2 separate regions of the Homo sapiens genome follow, and region 1 is linked to region 2. A link means that fine-mapping ties the variant in region 2 to the expression of a gene that starts in the linked region. Tissue or cell type: lung. Region 2 holds a variant in brackets; the other region holds the start of a gene. All regions are shown on one strand. Distances are between the middles of the regions.

The links. PIP is the estimated chance that this variant, and not a neighbour inherited with it, causes the effect.
Region 1: it holds the start of C1orf56, and the variant in region 2 is fine-mapped to the expression of C1orf56 in lung (TOPMed, PIP 0.97).

Annotation. Positions count from the first base shown.
Region 1 is chr1:151,044,497-151,050,886 of GRCh38, forward strand. It overlaps C1orf56 (chromosome 1 open reading frame 56), which reads left to right and starts at 3,255. Exons shown (of 2, transcript NM_017860.5): 1 at 3,255-4,356; 2 at 5,942-6,390. The coding sequence starts at 3,352. The coding sequence ends at 5,962. It overlaps BNIPL (BCL2 interacting protein like), which reads left to right. Exons shown (of 10, transcript NM_138278.4): 8 at 1,301-1,387; 9 at 1,571-1,669; 10 at 2,155-3,224. The coding sequence ends at 2,191. RefSeq lists enhancers at 3,583-3,632, 3,913-4,152.
Region 2 is chr1:151,269,441-151,277,781 of GRCh38, forward strand. No RefSeq gene overlaps it. Among named protein-coding and RNA genes, the nearest start is that of ZNF687-AS1, 8.3 kb to the right of the region's middle. The variant A/G (reference allele first, on the strand shown) is at 3,806.

The sequences.
Region 1 (6,390 bases), 230 kb before region 2:
CAGTGGTAAGATCTTGGCTCGCTGCAGCCTCTCCCTCCCTGGCTCAAGCCATCCTCCCACCTCAGCCTTCCAAGTAGCTGGGAGTACAGGCATGCGCCACCACCATGCCTAGCTAATTTTTGTATTTTTGTTGTTGTTGTTAGAGACAGGGTTTTGCCATGTTTCTCAGGCCAGTCTTGAACTCCTGAGCTCAGGTGATCTGCCTGCTTTGGCCTCCCAAAGTGCTGGGATTACAGGTGTGAGCCACTGTGCCTGGCCCTGTGTCTTCTTTTCCTTCTCAGGTTTTTTTTTTTTCCCCTTTTGGTTCCCCCATCTCCATTTGCTCACATTTCTCTTCTTGCCCCCTTTCCTTTTTTCGTCCTTGCTGGTCTTCTTCCACCTAGAGTTTTATAAGTAATCTTGGTCATGGAGCGATGTAGAAGCATGCAAAAGGAACTTACGCGAGGGTAGAGCACAAGATGGAAATGGAGCAGAAAAAGACCAGGTGGTCGGGCGCGGTGGCTCACGTCTGTAATCCCAGCACTTTGGAAGGCCGAGGTGGGCGGATCACAAGGTCAGGAGTTCAAGACCAGCCTGGCCAACATGGTGACAAGTCATTATCTCTACTAAAAAAATACAAAAATTAGCTGGGCATGGTGGCATGTGCCTATAATCCCAGCTACTCGGGAGGCTGAGGCAGGAGAATCACTTGAACCCGGGAGGTGGAGGGTTGCAGTGAGCCGAGATCGAGCCACTGACTCCAGCCTGGCGACAGAGTGAGATTCCATCTCAAAAAAAAAAAAAAAAAAAAAAAATCCGGGCGCGATGGCTCACACCTGTAATCCCAGCACTTTGGGAGGCCGAGGCGGGCAGATCACGAGGTCAGGAGATCGAGACCATGGTGAAACCCCGTCTCTACTAAAAATACAAAAAATTAGCCGGGCACGGTGGCGGGCGCCTGTAGTCCCAGCTACTCAGGAGGCTGAGGCAGGAGAATGGCATGAACCCGGGAAGCAGAGCTTACAGGGAGCTGAGATAGTGCCACTACACTCCAGCCCAGGCGACAGAGTGAGACTCCGTCTCAAAAAAAAAAAAAAAAAAAAATCTTGAGAGTTTTTTTAAAAATGAGGATCATGGAGGGCTAAATAAGATGGGTGGAGCTGAGATTACAGCTGACGGAATGGGGATTAGACCCAAGTACCAGATAAATCTAGAAACTAGAGAAGTGAATGAAGGAAGTTACAGTACAGAAAACAGTTCCACGTGATCTTCACACATAAAGGTGGAAGAAGAAATAGGATGATCTCATGTTGTTTTTCAGGCTACGGAAAAACCTGCGAGCCCTGGTGGTTGTCCATGCTACATGGTATGTGAAAGCATTTCTGGCACTGCTTCGGCCCTTCATCAGGTACTAGTTCTAGGAACAAGGACTCCTTTCTCCTTCCCCCCATTTTCAAAATCAAGATTAAGATCTTTCTCCACCTTGATTCTTTCTAGCCTTAACCACTCTACTTCTACATTTTTCTTTGCAAGGATTTTTGGGAACCCTTCTCCCAATACAAAACACAGTTGATTTATTCTCTCTTTTCAGTTCCAAATTCACACGAAAAATCCGTTTTCTGGACAGCCTGGGGGAGCTGGCCCAACTCATATCCCTGGATCAAGTCCACATCCCTGAAGCTGTCAGACAGTGAGTTTCACACTTAAGAATAAAGCCTTGGGGTGGGATGTGTAAAGCCAATCTCTACTTTTTTAATGCCTTGGGGGACATACAAAAGAACGAAAAGCTAGAGGGCCCTGTTTTCGGGTGCTTTAATGTATATGGGGAAACTGCACACACCCAGAGAAGAAATGAAGGACACTACTGCATCCAACAAGAATAAATGAAAAAAAAAAAAAACCTATACATATAAGTGCAGAGGCAATAAGGAATAAAGGAATAATCACAGTGCAGAGGAGATTCAGACTGGCCCTAGAAATTAGGAAGAGATGTGTTGGCAGTGAACAGATGATATCCAGTGGGGGAGAGGGTGTTAGGGAGCAAAAGTGCTAAATGATGACTCAACCCAATCATCTAGCTCTTCCAATTCACCTGGCTTCTCTCCCCAAACCAGAAAATAAAACCCAAGTCCTACCCCCTGAACCACTTCTCTCCTCCCCCTCTCCCTCTCCTAGGCTGGACCGGGATCTCCATGGCTCAGGAGGGACATAGCACAGGACTGGATAAAAGGCCTTAGAACCAGTTAGTGATCTGCCTACACCTGAATCCCTGAAACATCTGAACTGTTTTGTAAATCATCTTATCCCCAACCTCAGTACCACCGGATCTTCACTTCTCAGTGGGATTTTGTCCTTTGCATGACCCTACTTTCAGCAGGGCTTTGAGGCTGGGAAACTGATCTGCTGGGTGACTTTCATTCCAGTTGCTGGGACGGAAGGCTGAATGTAGGGTCATTTTGTATGGGATATGCAGAGCTCTGGGTTTTTTTGTTTTTTGTTTTTTGAGACGGAGTCTCGCTCTGTCGCCAGGCTGGAGTGCAGTGGTGCGATCTCGGCTCACTGCAACCTCCGCCTCCCGGTTCAAGCCATTCTTCTGCCTCAGCCTCAGCGAGTAGCTGAGACTACCGGCGCACGCCACCACGCCCAGCTAATTGTTTTGTATTTTTAGTAGAGACGGGGTTTCACCATGTTGGCCAGGATGGTCTCGATCTCTTGACCTCGTGATCTGCCCGCCTCGGCCTCCCAAAGTGCCGAGATTACAGGTGTGAGCCACCGCGCTCGGCCAGAGCTCTGGGTTTTAATCCTACTTTAGCTGTAGAACCTTGGGCAAATAACTTCATCTTTTTGGGTCCTAATTTTCCTCCTGTCTAACTGGAGGGACTGTGATCCTTCCACCTTGGATGGAAGAGGCTTACCTGACAGCCAGCCTGCCTGCTGGGAGCCAGGAGAGTCAGCTCATTAAATCTTGAAGAACCGCTGTATGCCCTTTTTCCTTCTAAGTCATGTCTGCTGCCTGTGAGCCTGGGAAGGAGTGCTTTCAAAACCTGTATTTTTGCCCTCTTTAGTAAATTTAGAACTGTAGAGGCTAATAAACTGCGATGAGACATTTAAGCTCTGCTCCAAAGAAGTGAACGACTCTTTCACCACCCCTTGCATCCCAAACCTTCGGTTCTGGCAGAGTTCTTGCCGCAGAGGTTCCTTAGGAGCACCCCGCGCGGCCCGCGCGAGCGCGCCTGCGCGTCGAACCCCACCCCCTTCCCCGCGGGCCTCGGTTCAAACGACCCGGTGGGTCTACAGCGGAAGGGAGGGAGCGAAGGTAGGAGGCAGGGCTTGCCTCACTGGCCACCCTCCCAACCCCAAGAGCCCAGCCCCATGGTCCCCGCCGCCGGCGCGCTGCTGTGGGTCCTGCTGCTGAATCTGGGTCCCCGGGCGGCGGGGGCCCAAGGCCTGACCCAGACTCCGACCGAAATGCAGCGGGTCAGTTTACGCTTTGGGGGCCCCATGACCCGCAGCTACCGGAGCACCGCCCGGACTGGTCTTCCCCGGAAGACAAGGATAATCCTAGAGGACGAGAATGATGCCATGGCCGACGCCGACCGCCTGGCTGGACCAGCGGCTGCCGAGCTCTTGGCCGCCACGGTGTCCACCGGCTTTAGCCGGTCGTCCGCCATTAACGAGGAGGATGGGTCTTCAGAAGAGGGGGTTGTGATTAATGCCGGAAAGGATAGCACCAGCAGAGAGCTTCCCAGTGCGACTCCCAATACAGCGGGGAGTTCCAGCACGAGGTTTATAGCCAATAGTCAGGAGCCTGAAATCAGGCTGACTTCAAGCCTGCCGCGCTCCCCCGGGAGGTCTACTGAGGACCTGCCAGGCTCGCAGGCCACCCTGAGCCAGTGGTCCACACCTGGGTCTACCCCGAGCCGGTGGCCGTCACCCTCACCCACAGCCATGCCATCTCCTGAGGATCTGCGGCTGGTGCTGATGCCCTGGGGCCCGTGGCACTGCCACTGCAAGTCGGGCACCATGAGCCGGAGCCGGTCTGGGAAGCTGCACGGCCTTTCCGGGCGCCTTCGAGTTGGGGCGCTGAGCCAGCTCCGCACGGAGCACAAGCCTTGCACCTATCAACAATGTCCCTGCAACCGACTTCGGGAAGAGTGCCCCCTGGACACAAGTCTCTGTACTGACACCAACTGTGCCTCTCAGAGCACCACCAGTACCAGGACCACCACTACCCCCTTCCCCACCATCCACCTCAGAAGCAGTCCCAGCCTGCCACCCGCCAGCCCCTGCCCAGCCCTGGCTTTTTGGAAACGGGTCAGGATTGGCCTGGAGGATATTTGGAATAGCCTCTCTTCAGTGTTCACAGAGATGCAACCAGTAAGTGTTTGGTGATGAGCCAGGGTCTTTGTTGACGGATCTGAAAAGTCCTGGTATCTAAAACCCAGTTGCTAAGCCAGCCAGTGTTGCTTACATGAACTGTTACTGACTTACCTGGTTATTGATTCATAACATGCATTGGTTATTCACATTGTTAGCCATTGATTCCACCTATTATTTATTGAGCAACTACTGGTTGGTCATTAGGTAAAATGTCTTACTGCTCATTAGGTGATTATTGACCAAATAGTTAAGATTGGAAATATTTTTTTTTTTCAAGACAAGAGTTTCACTCTTATTGCCGAGGCTGGAGTGCAATGGCGTGATCCTGGCTCACTGCAACCTCTGCCTCCCAGGTTCAAACAATTCTCCTGCCTCAGCCTCTTGAGTAGCTGGGATTACAGGCACCCACCACCATGCCCGGCTAATTTTTTTTTTTTTTTTAGAAGAGACAGCATTTTACCATGTTGGCCAGGCTGGTCTAGAACTCCTGACCTCAAGTGATCCACCCGCCTCGGCCTCCCAAAGTGCTGGGATTATAGGCATGAGCCACCATGCCTGGTCTTGGAAATTCTCTGTTTTTTTCACAGACAAGATCTCGCTATGTTGCCCAGGCTGGTCTTAAACTCCTGGGCTCAAGCAATTCTCCTGCCTCAGCCTTCCAAAGTGCTGGGATTACAGGCATGAGCTACTGTGCCCCTGACCATAAGACTTTTTTTTCGAGACAGGGTCTCTCATCACTCAGGCTGGAGTGTGGTGGCGCAGTCACAACTCACTGCACCCTCCATCTTCTGGGCTCAAGCAATCCTCCCACCTTAGCCTGCTGAATAGCTGGGACTACAGACGTGCACCACCATGCCTGGCTAACAAGATCTCGCTATGTTGCCCAGGCTGGTCTCCAACTCCTGAGCTCAAGGATCTGCCCACCTTGGCCTTCCAGAATTCTGGGATTACAGACATGAGCCACTGTGCCCGGCCCATAAAGTCTTTTTGATGCACAGATAATTAACAGATATGAAGGATCTTAATCAATTAATAGTTTTGACCTAATACAGCTTAACAGCAACAAGTGCCAAAATTTGAGGTCTTACTATGTGCACTTTACCTGAATCGATCCTCACATCCTATGAGGTATTATTATCCCTGCTTTTCAGATGAAGAAACTGAGGTTTACAAAGCTAGTAAGTGGCAGAGCCACGAGATTTAAACCAGGTTTGACACCAGTGCCCACTCTCTTCACCACTACCATTTGGGAGTACTGTCCTTCCAGGACAAGGAAGGATAGTCCTCTGCTTTTCCCAGAATTAGCAAAGGTTCTGATTGACTTGATAAGGTAGTCTCAATTGATACGGATGATAGGACTTTGAGGAGGGAAAGGTAATAAAGCTTACACTTGGTCATTTTGCTTGTTTCTGTTTTTCTCCTTGTGTGTCCAATACCATTATTGCATACAAAAATAAGTAAGGGGTGGGCAGTAGGGTTGAGGGAATATGGGTTTGTGGGAGGGGGAGATGAAGCAAGGAAGGGAAAAGAATATAGATGTGGTTGTAATTTCCCTTTTTCTCTATTTTTTTTTCTTACGCAGATAGACAGAAACCAGAGGTAATGGCCACTTCATCCACATGAGGAGATGTCAGTATCTCAACCTCTCTTGCCCTTTCAATCCTAGCACCCACTAGATATTTTTAGTACAGAAAAACAAAACTGGAAAACACATTGTTTGGTCTTGTGTTTCTTTACAGAGGTACCTGAGGGAGGAGAGACATAAATCCCTTCATCCCTAAGACTGAACTATGTAACTAGCAGCCTCTGGCTTGTTTTCTACTCCCTGTCCCTCAGGATAAAATGTTGATATTGCTCATTTTCCTCATTTCCAACATTGTTTTAAAACAAGTACTTCTTTTACAGGCTTGAAAAATCTCAAATAAACGCTAAGAAAAGGGAGTAGGAAGAACAAGGAGTTGAGCCCTTGAAAGATGACAGTGGTCTTCTTGCCTTCATGCTTGGCCCTCTCTCCTCAAAAGGGCAATGTTG
Region 2 (8,341 bases):
GGTCTTGAACTCCTGACCTCGTGATCTACCTGCCTCGGCCTCCTGAAGTGCTGGGATTACAACGCCTGACTAATTTTTATATTTTTTTTGTAGAGACGGGGTTTCGCCAGGTTACCTAGACTGGTCGTGAGCTCAAGCAATCTGCCCACCTCAGCCTCCCAAAGTGCTGGAATTATAGGCCTGAACCACCACACCTAGCATTTTTTTTTTTTTTTTTTTTTTTGAGACGGAGTCTTGCTCTGTCACCCAGGCTGGAGTGCAGTGGCATGATCTTGGCTCACTGCAAGCTCCGCCTCCCGGGTTCACGCCATTCTCCTGCCTCAGCCTCCCGAGTAGCTGGGACTACAGGCGCCCGCCACCACGCCCGGCTAATTTTTTGGATTTTTAGTAGAGATGGGGTTTCACCGTGTTAGCCAGGATGGTCTGGATCTGACCTTGTGATCCGCCCGCCTCGGCCTCCCAAAGTGCTGGGATTACAGGCTTGAGCCACCACCTCCCAAAGTGCTGGGATTACAGGCTTGAGCCACCACGCCCGGCCCATTGTTTTTGTTTTTATTCTTTTACCATGAGAAATAGAAACCTCCTCTCATTGGTCAAATACAGTAGGTAACCTGTTAACCTCACGTGATGGCCTCCTGAGCTTGCTCCAATGTGGATTGGTTGTCCTCGACCTGCTGCAAAGTTTTAGTTCTGGCCCTTCCCTGCACCTTCACCCTGGGACTCACTTATTTCCTGGATGCCATATTTTGGTTTTCCTTTGTTTCATCCTCTGTTTTAGTAGAATTTGTCATCCAGTAGCTTTCTGAGAAAGGAGCACAGCAAGTTTATTTTTTGTGTGTCTGAAAACATCTTGGCAGAGTATAGAATTCTACATTTAAAATAATGTTTCTTTAGAATTTTGAAGGCATTGCCTCATTGTTTTCAGTTTTCTTCTTGTTTGTTTTTTCTTTTTCTCAATGTTTCAGCATCCAGAGGAATGCTTGTTGGTGTTGAGACAGGGTCTCACTTTGTCACCCAGGCTGCAATGCAGTGGCAGGAACACGGCTCAGGCTGACTGCCGCCGCTACCTCTGAGGCTCAAGCAGTCCTCTTGCCTCACTATCTCAACTGTCTAGGACTACAGGTGCATGCCACAACACCCATCTGGTTTTTGTATTTTTTGTAGAGATGGTGGTTTTTGTATTTTTTGTAGAGATGGTGTTTCACCACGTTGCCCAGGCTGGTCTGGAACTCCTGACCCTAAGTGATCTGCCCACCTCGGCCTCCCAAAGTGCTGAGATTACAGGCATGAGCCACCTTGCCCATGGCCTGTATTCTAGTTTTCAGGGTGTATTATTAAGAAACCAGGGCTGGGTGTGATAGCTCATGCTTGTAATCCCAGCACTTTGGGAGGCCAAGGCGGGAGGATAACTTGAGCCCAGGAGTTCAAGACCAGTCTGGGGAACATGGCAAGACCCCATTCCCCCACATTTTCTTAATTAAAAACAAAAAAACAAAAAAAGTTAGCTGGCTGTGGTGCAGTGCACCTATAGTTCTAGCTACTCATGAGGCTGAGGTGGGAGTATCACTTGAGCTAAGGGGTCCAGGCTGCAATGAGCAGTGATCACGTTACTGTACTCTAGCCTGGGCAACAGAGCAAGACTGTCCCAAAAAACAAACAAAAAAAGCATCCTGTTTTTGTATCATGGGTGCAATATCTTCTATTTCTTTTCTTTTTTTTTTTTTTTTTTTTTGATACAGAGTCTTTTTCTGTCACCCAGGCTGGAGTGCAGTGGCATGATCTCAGCTTACTGCAACCTCTGCCTCCGGGGTTCAAGCAATTCTCCTGCCTCAGCCTCCCGAGTAGCTGGGACTACAGGCATGTGCCACCACGCCCAGCTAATTTTTGTATTTTTAGTATAGACAGGGTTTCACCATCTTGGCCAAGTTGGTCTTGAACTCCTGTCCTCATGATCTACCTGCCTCAACCTCCCAAAGTGCTGGGATTACAGGTGTGAACCACCACGCCCAGCCAATCTTATATTTCTAAGTATAGTCATTGCAGTTTTAGGATATTTTCTTCCGGTCCCTTCATTATCTGTTACTCTCTGGGCTCCTCCTCTTTTGGCTTCTTTTATGTTGGAGGCTGCCTTCAACTCTCAGATGATCCTTGGCTGTCTGTCCCCACTTAAGAGAGAGCTGCCTGGAAACTCCATGGGTGGGGTGAGCAGAGACCGTCATATGTGGGCCTCCCTGGGAGTAAGGAGGGAGGGAGCAGCATTTGAGTTCCTGTTGGCTTCTTCTCCTGAGTCAGTCATTATCTCCAACAAGGAATTTTCCAATCTTCCTTCCCCTGCTTTCAGAGGCCCAAGGACTTTTCTGTTTTTGAGCCTTTTTGGGATCTAAGACTGATTATTTTGTTCTTTGTTGGCTCTTCACTCCCTACATTATGAGTAGAATGGAAAAATCCCCAAACTTAAGTCAGTTATCCTGCACATCTGGCTTTCTGCACATCCTGTGCAGAAATCCTGTGTCAGTTATCTGCACATCTGTATCAAACTAAATCAGTCTCTCATTTGCTGTAGTCTTCTCTTTGTCCTTGTGCTTTTTCATGTCTTATTATTTATTTATTTATTTGTTTATTTATTTATTTTTGAGACGGAGTCTCGCTCTGTCACCCAGGCTGGAGTGCAGTGGTACGATCTCGGCTCACTGCAAGCTCCGCCTCCCGGGTTCACGCTATTCTCCTGCCTCAGCCTCTTGAGTAGCTGGGACTACAGGCGCCTGCCACCACGCCTGGCTAATTTTTTGTATTTTTAGTAGAGACGGGGTTTCACTGTGTTAGCCAGGATGGTCTCGATCTCCTGACCTCATGATCCACCCGCCTCGGCCTCCCAAAGTGCTGGGATTACAGGCATGAGCCACCGCGCCCGGCTATTTTTTATTTTTCAGACAGGGTCACTTTTTTGCCCAGGCTGCAGCGCAGTTGGGCCATCATGGCTCACTGCAGTCTTGGCCTCCCAGGCTCAGGTGATCCTCCTACCTTAGCCTCCCCAGTAGCTGGGACTACAGGCACGTGCCACCATGCCTGCCCTTTTTCACTTCTTTACTCTTATTTTGACGTGATTTCTAGGGTGAGCAGAGATAAGCTCAATTCACCACATATAACCAGAAGCTCTTTACTTCTTTAAGATCAATTACCTAATTCCTCTAACTCACAAGGTGGTCGTGAAAATTAAAGGTGGCGGGCAACCCGCTTGGGTCCCCTACTGTAGAAGCTTTGTTCTTTCGCTCTTTGCAATAAATCTTGCTGCTGCTCACTCTTTGGGTCCACACTGCCTTTATGAGGTGTAACACTCACCACGAAGGTCTGCAGCTTCACTCCTGAAGCCAGCGAGACCACGAACCCACCGGGAGGAACGAACAACTCCAGATGCGCCGCCTTAAGAGCTGTAACACTCACCGCGAAGGTCCGTGGCCTCACTCCTGAGCCCCCAAGACCACGAACCCACCAGAAGGAAGAAACTCCAAACACATCCGAACATCAGAAGGAACAAACTCTGGACACGCTGACTTTAAGAACTGTAACACTCACCGCGAAGGTCTGCGGCTTCATTCTTGAAGTCAGTGAGACCAAGAACCCACCAATTCCGGACACAATGCCATTCTCCTGCCTCAGCCTCCCGAGTAGCTGGGACTACAGGTGGCCGCCACCACGCCTGGCTAATTTTTTGTATTTTTAGTAGAGACAGGGTTTCACTGTGTTAGCCAGGATGATCTCCATCTCCTGACCTCGTGATCCGCCCGCCTTGGCCTCCCAAAGTGCT[A/G]GGATTACAGACGTGAGCCACTGCGCCCAGCCCAGCTTAGCTTTTTAACAGCTTAGTTCTTTCATCTTTGTTTGAATACAAAGGCCAAGGAAAATAGTCTACATGTTATTTTCAGGAAAATTTTCTGTATAAATTATTGTTATTGAAGCATTAATTTTCTATTTCATGATCAGGTTACATGCCTTGGAAAGGATGTAGTATATGATGAAATTGCCCAAATCATTTGAATGATAATAAAAGTTTAAAAAAAAAAAAGAAAAAAATTAAAGGTGGCTGTGTGTAACAAGATGTTGAAAGGTTTTCCTGGTTGTGTTGGAGTTTGAGCTGAGTCTTAAGGACAGAAGTGTACACAGGTACCCCCACATTGTAGAAAAATACTTTTCCAGCCACGCAAAAGACAGCACAATTCCTCCAGCTCCCATGGCCCCCACTGCCACCTGCAGCCTCTATGAGATGACACATTTGACACAGGAAAGAGAGCACGCTCATGGAGATAGATCTGTTGTTGATTGCTGATCTCTCTGGAGTCCTTTGGTATTCCCTGTTTCTTGTTCTTTAGGGGCGAGGGGAGGACGCAGACCAAGGTAGGACAGTACCAAGAGACTGGGAGTGCCTGTAAGAAACAGATGGGCATCTGAGTCCTTGGCTGGATGTTTCCTGGGTGGCAGAACTCCTGACCCAGTGTTGTCAAAGACCACAAGCAAGTCACTGAGAGAGAGTTCTGGAAGAGCCTGACATGAATTTACTGGTATTTGGGAGATATAAATGAACATAGAGACCAATGTCTGCTGAATGGGACATGTGGGAGGTTGGCTGGAGCCCAGACCTGGAATGGTGGCACTAGTGGGTAGACTTTATTTCAGCACCTGGCATGCTAAGAATGTGGGAGTTTCCCACGGACCAAGAGGAAAGCATGGAAAGTACCCAAGCTTGAGCCATCCAGATAGAGCCTGCCCAAAAGGAGTTCCTGAAGGGCAAGAAGAGCCCAATGGTAAGATGCCATGGGGCAAAAGTGCAGGGCACTGTGCAAGAGGTCACCTGGAGAGTGCACTGCAGATGCCAGAGAAAAGGGCAGTGGAGAGGTCCTGTAAGTCTCCCAGGGACCTTCAAATATGCTCCACCCAAGAGAAAGCGAGCATTTAGGAACCTGTCACACAGAGGGCTCTGACAGCCCCTGTCATGTAAAACTTGACTCCTTTCCTTCCTCGCACCATCCCAACTCTGGAGAAGCCAGAGGCAGGAAGGGAAGGGAGGGTGAAAGAAGAGCAACAGGCCGCGTGCGGTGGCTCATGCCTGTAATCCCAACACTTTGGGAGGCCGAGGCGGGCAGATCATCTGAGGTCAGGAGTTTGAGACCAGCCTGGCCAACATGGTGAAACTGTCTCTACTAAACATATAAAAATTAGCCAGGCGTGGTGGCGGGCGCCTGTAATCCCAGCTACTGGGGAGGCTGAGGCAGGAGAATTGCTTGAACCTGGGAAGCGGAGGTTGCACTGAGCTGAGATCACACCATTGCACTCCAACGTGGGCAACAAGAGTGAAACTCCATCGCTAAATAAATAAATAAATAAATAAATATAAAAATAGGGTAGATGTGGTGGCTCATCTCTACCAATAATAAAAAAATTAGCTGGGCGTGGTGGTGCATGCCTGTAGTCCCAGCTATTCGGGAGGCTGAAGTGGGAGGATCACATGAGCCCAGGAGCTCAAGGCTGCAGTAAGCCGAGATTGTACCACTGCGCTCCAGCCTGGGTAGCAGAGTGAGACCCTCTCTCAAAAAAAAAAAGCCAGGCATGGTGGCTCACGCCTGTAATCCCGGCACTTTGGGTGGCCGAGGTAGGCAGATCACGAGGTCAGGAGTTCGAGACCAGCCTGGCCAGTATGGTAAACTCCGTCTCTACTAAAAACACACATAAAAAATTAGCCGGGTGTGGTAGTGGGCACCTGTAATCCCAGCTACTCGGGAGGCTGAGGCAGGAGAATCGCTTGAACCTGAGAGGTGGAGGTTGCAGTGAGCTGAGACTGTGCCATTGCACTCCAGCCTGGGTGACAGAGCGAGACTCAGTCTCAAAAAAAAATTATAATAATAATCAAGAATGAGGATAGGAGTAGTATAGGACAGAGTGGGGTGAGGCAGAAGATGGCTGCAACAAGGAGAGGTGGTGGGTGCTATTAACAGAAGGTGCCGCGCCATTAATCTGGGGGTATGTGTGTCTGTGTGTGCATCTCCAAAGATTCCTCCTACTAGCCAGGCGCAGTGGCTCACATCTGTAGCCCCAGCTACTTGGGAGGCTGAGGTGGGTGGATCGCTTGAGCCCAGGAAGTTGAGGCTGCAGTGAGCCGTGATTGCACCACTGTACTCCAGCCTGGGTGACAGAGCAAGACCTTGTTTAGAAAAAAAAAAAAAAAGTGTGTGTGAGTGTGTGTGCATATATCTATCTATCTATCTATCTATATATATATATATATATATATATATATGCACACACACACATTCCTCTTACTCTTTCCTAGGCAATGGTTACCACAATTCTGCTACTATCACCATTGATTTACTTTGCCTGCTCTTGAACTTTATTTATTATTTATTTTTATTTTATTTTATTTTTTTGAGACAGAGTCTTGCTCTGTCGCCCAGGCTGGAGTGCAGTGGCATGATCTCGGCTCACTGCAACTTCTGCCACCTGGATTCAAGCGATTCTCCTGCCTCAGCCTCCCAAGTAGCTGAGATTACAGGTGCGTGCCACCACGCCTGGCTAATTTTTGTTTTGTTTCAGGATCTTGGCCAGGCTGGTCTTGAACTTCTGACCTCGTGATCCACCTGTCTCAGCCTCCCAAAGTGCTGGGATTACAGGTGTGAGCCACCACGCCCAGCTTGAACTTTATATAAATGGAATCATACTATATATTTATAGTATATATATACATAAATAGAATCCTACTCTCTATGTGAAGTTCAAGAATTTTTTCTTTTTTTTTTTTTTTTTTGAATCGGAGTGTCACTCTTGTTGCCCAGGCTGCAGTGCAATGGCACAATCTTGGCTCACCACAACCTCTGCCTCCCGGGTTCAAGCGATTCTCCTACCTCAGCCTCCCGAGTAGCTGGGATTACAGGCATGCACCACTAAGCCTGGCTAATTTTGGTATTTTTAGTAGAGACAGAATTTCTCCATGTTGGTCAGGCTGGTCTTGAACTCCTGATCTCAGGTGATCCACCAGCCTTGGCCTCCCAAAATGCTGGGATTACAGGAGTGAGCCACTGCACCCGGCCCATTCCTGCTGATTTAAATATCCAGGTAAATGAATCTTCCAGGCCACTGGCCTCTCAGTCTCTTGATCTCCCCTCCTAGTCCATTCCTCTCTCCTGAATGCCTATTTCCTATCTTTTTGCTCCTCAAATTCCTAGTTTCTTCTTCATCCTCACTCTTAGAGAGTGATCTTGATTTTTTATTCCCACGAAGAGTTTGACAACACATGTTCTTGTTTCTTATACCACTGGACAACAGAAGCAACAAAGAGATATCCCACAGCTCCCCAGCTCCCTCGACCCATGCCCGCTCACTCTGCCTTCTCTCCCAATTATTATTCGGGAACTGTCCCTGCCCCTGTGTAAGGCAATTCCTCTGTTTGTGAACTTGACCCTCTCGCTCACCTTCTGAAGAACATGACTCCAGAAACTTTCCCTATCGCTCTGCTACAACTTCGGTTTTTCCTGTCTACAGGATCCTCCCCACCCGTGTACTGACATACAACTTCTTCATCTTCAAACAGTCCTTTCCTTGGGTCAGTAGAACCTGATGAGAAAAAAATGTAACCATTAAAAGAAATAGTCCTCTTGGTCACTCTTTTTCCTCTAGTTACCATCTTTTTTCTCCTTCCTTCCTTTGAAAGAGTTTTATAGTGACTTTTCTTTTTTCCTCCTCCATTCTTGTAAACCCATTCCATGAAGGCTTTTGTCCCCACCAGTCCATCAACTCTCTCCTCATCATGATCACCAGTGACCTCCATTTTGCCTTAATCCATTGGTCAATTCTCAGGTTTCATCCTATTTGATATTTTAGTGGCATCTGACTATCATTCTCTCTTCCTCTTTCTTGAGATACTTTTTAAATTTAGCTTGAAGGTTACAACACTCTCCTGGTTCCTTCCTTCCTCTTTGCTGTTCTTCTCATCTCCTTGACCTTTTAACTTCGGAGTTTCCCATGCCTCAATCCTCCCTTGGTGATCTCATCCATTCTGACCTGGGTTTTAAATACTATCTATAAGCTGATGACACCTACATTTGTATCTCCACTTGGATGTGTAATACCTCAACATGACTAAAACTGAGCTACCGACCTAACCCCTAAAACCTGCATCTCCTGTAGTCTTCTCAGCTCAAGAAATGGGGCAACATCATGCTTCTACTTCCTCAGCCTCCATGCTTTGGAGTCTTTTTCTTTCTTCCACACCCCACTTTCAACCCTTTTAAAACGTTTAAGTCAGGCCACCATGTCATCTGTCTCCTTTTGATGGCTTTCTAACCCACCGTGAGAA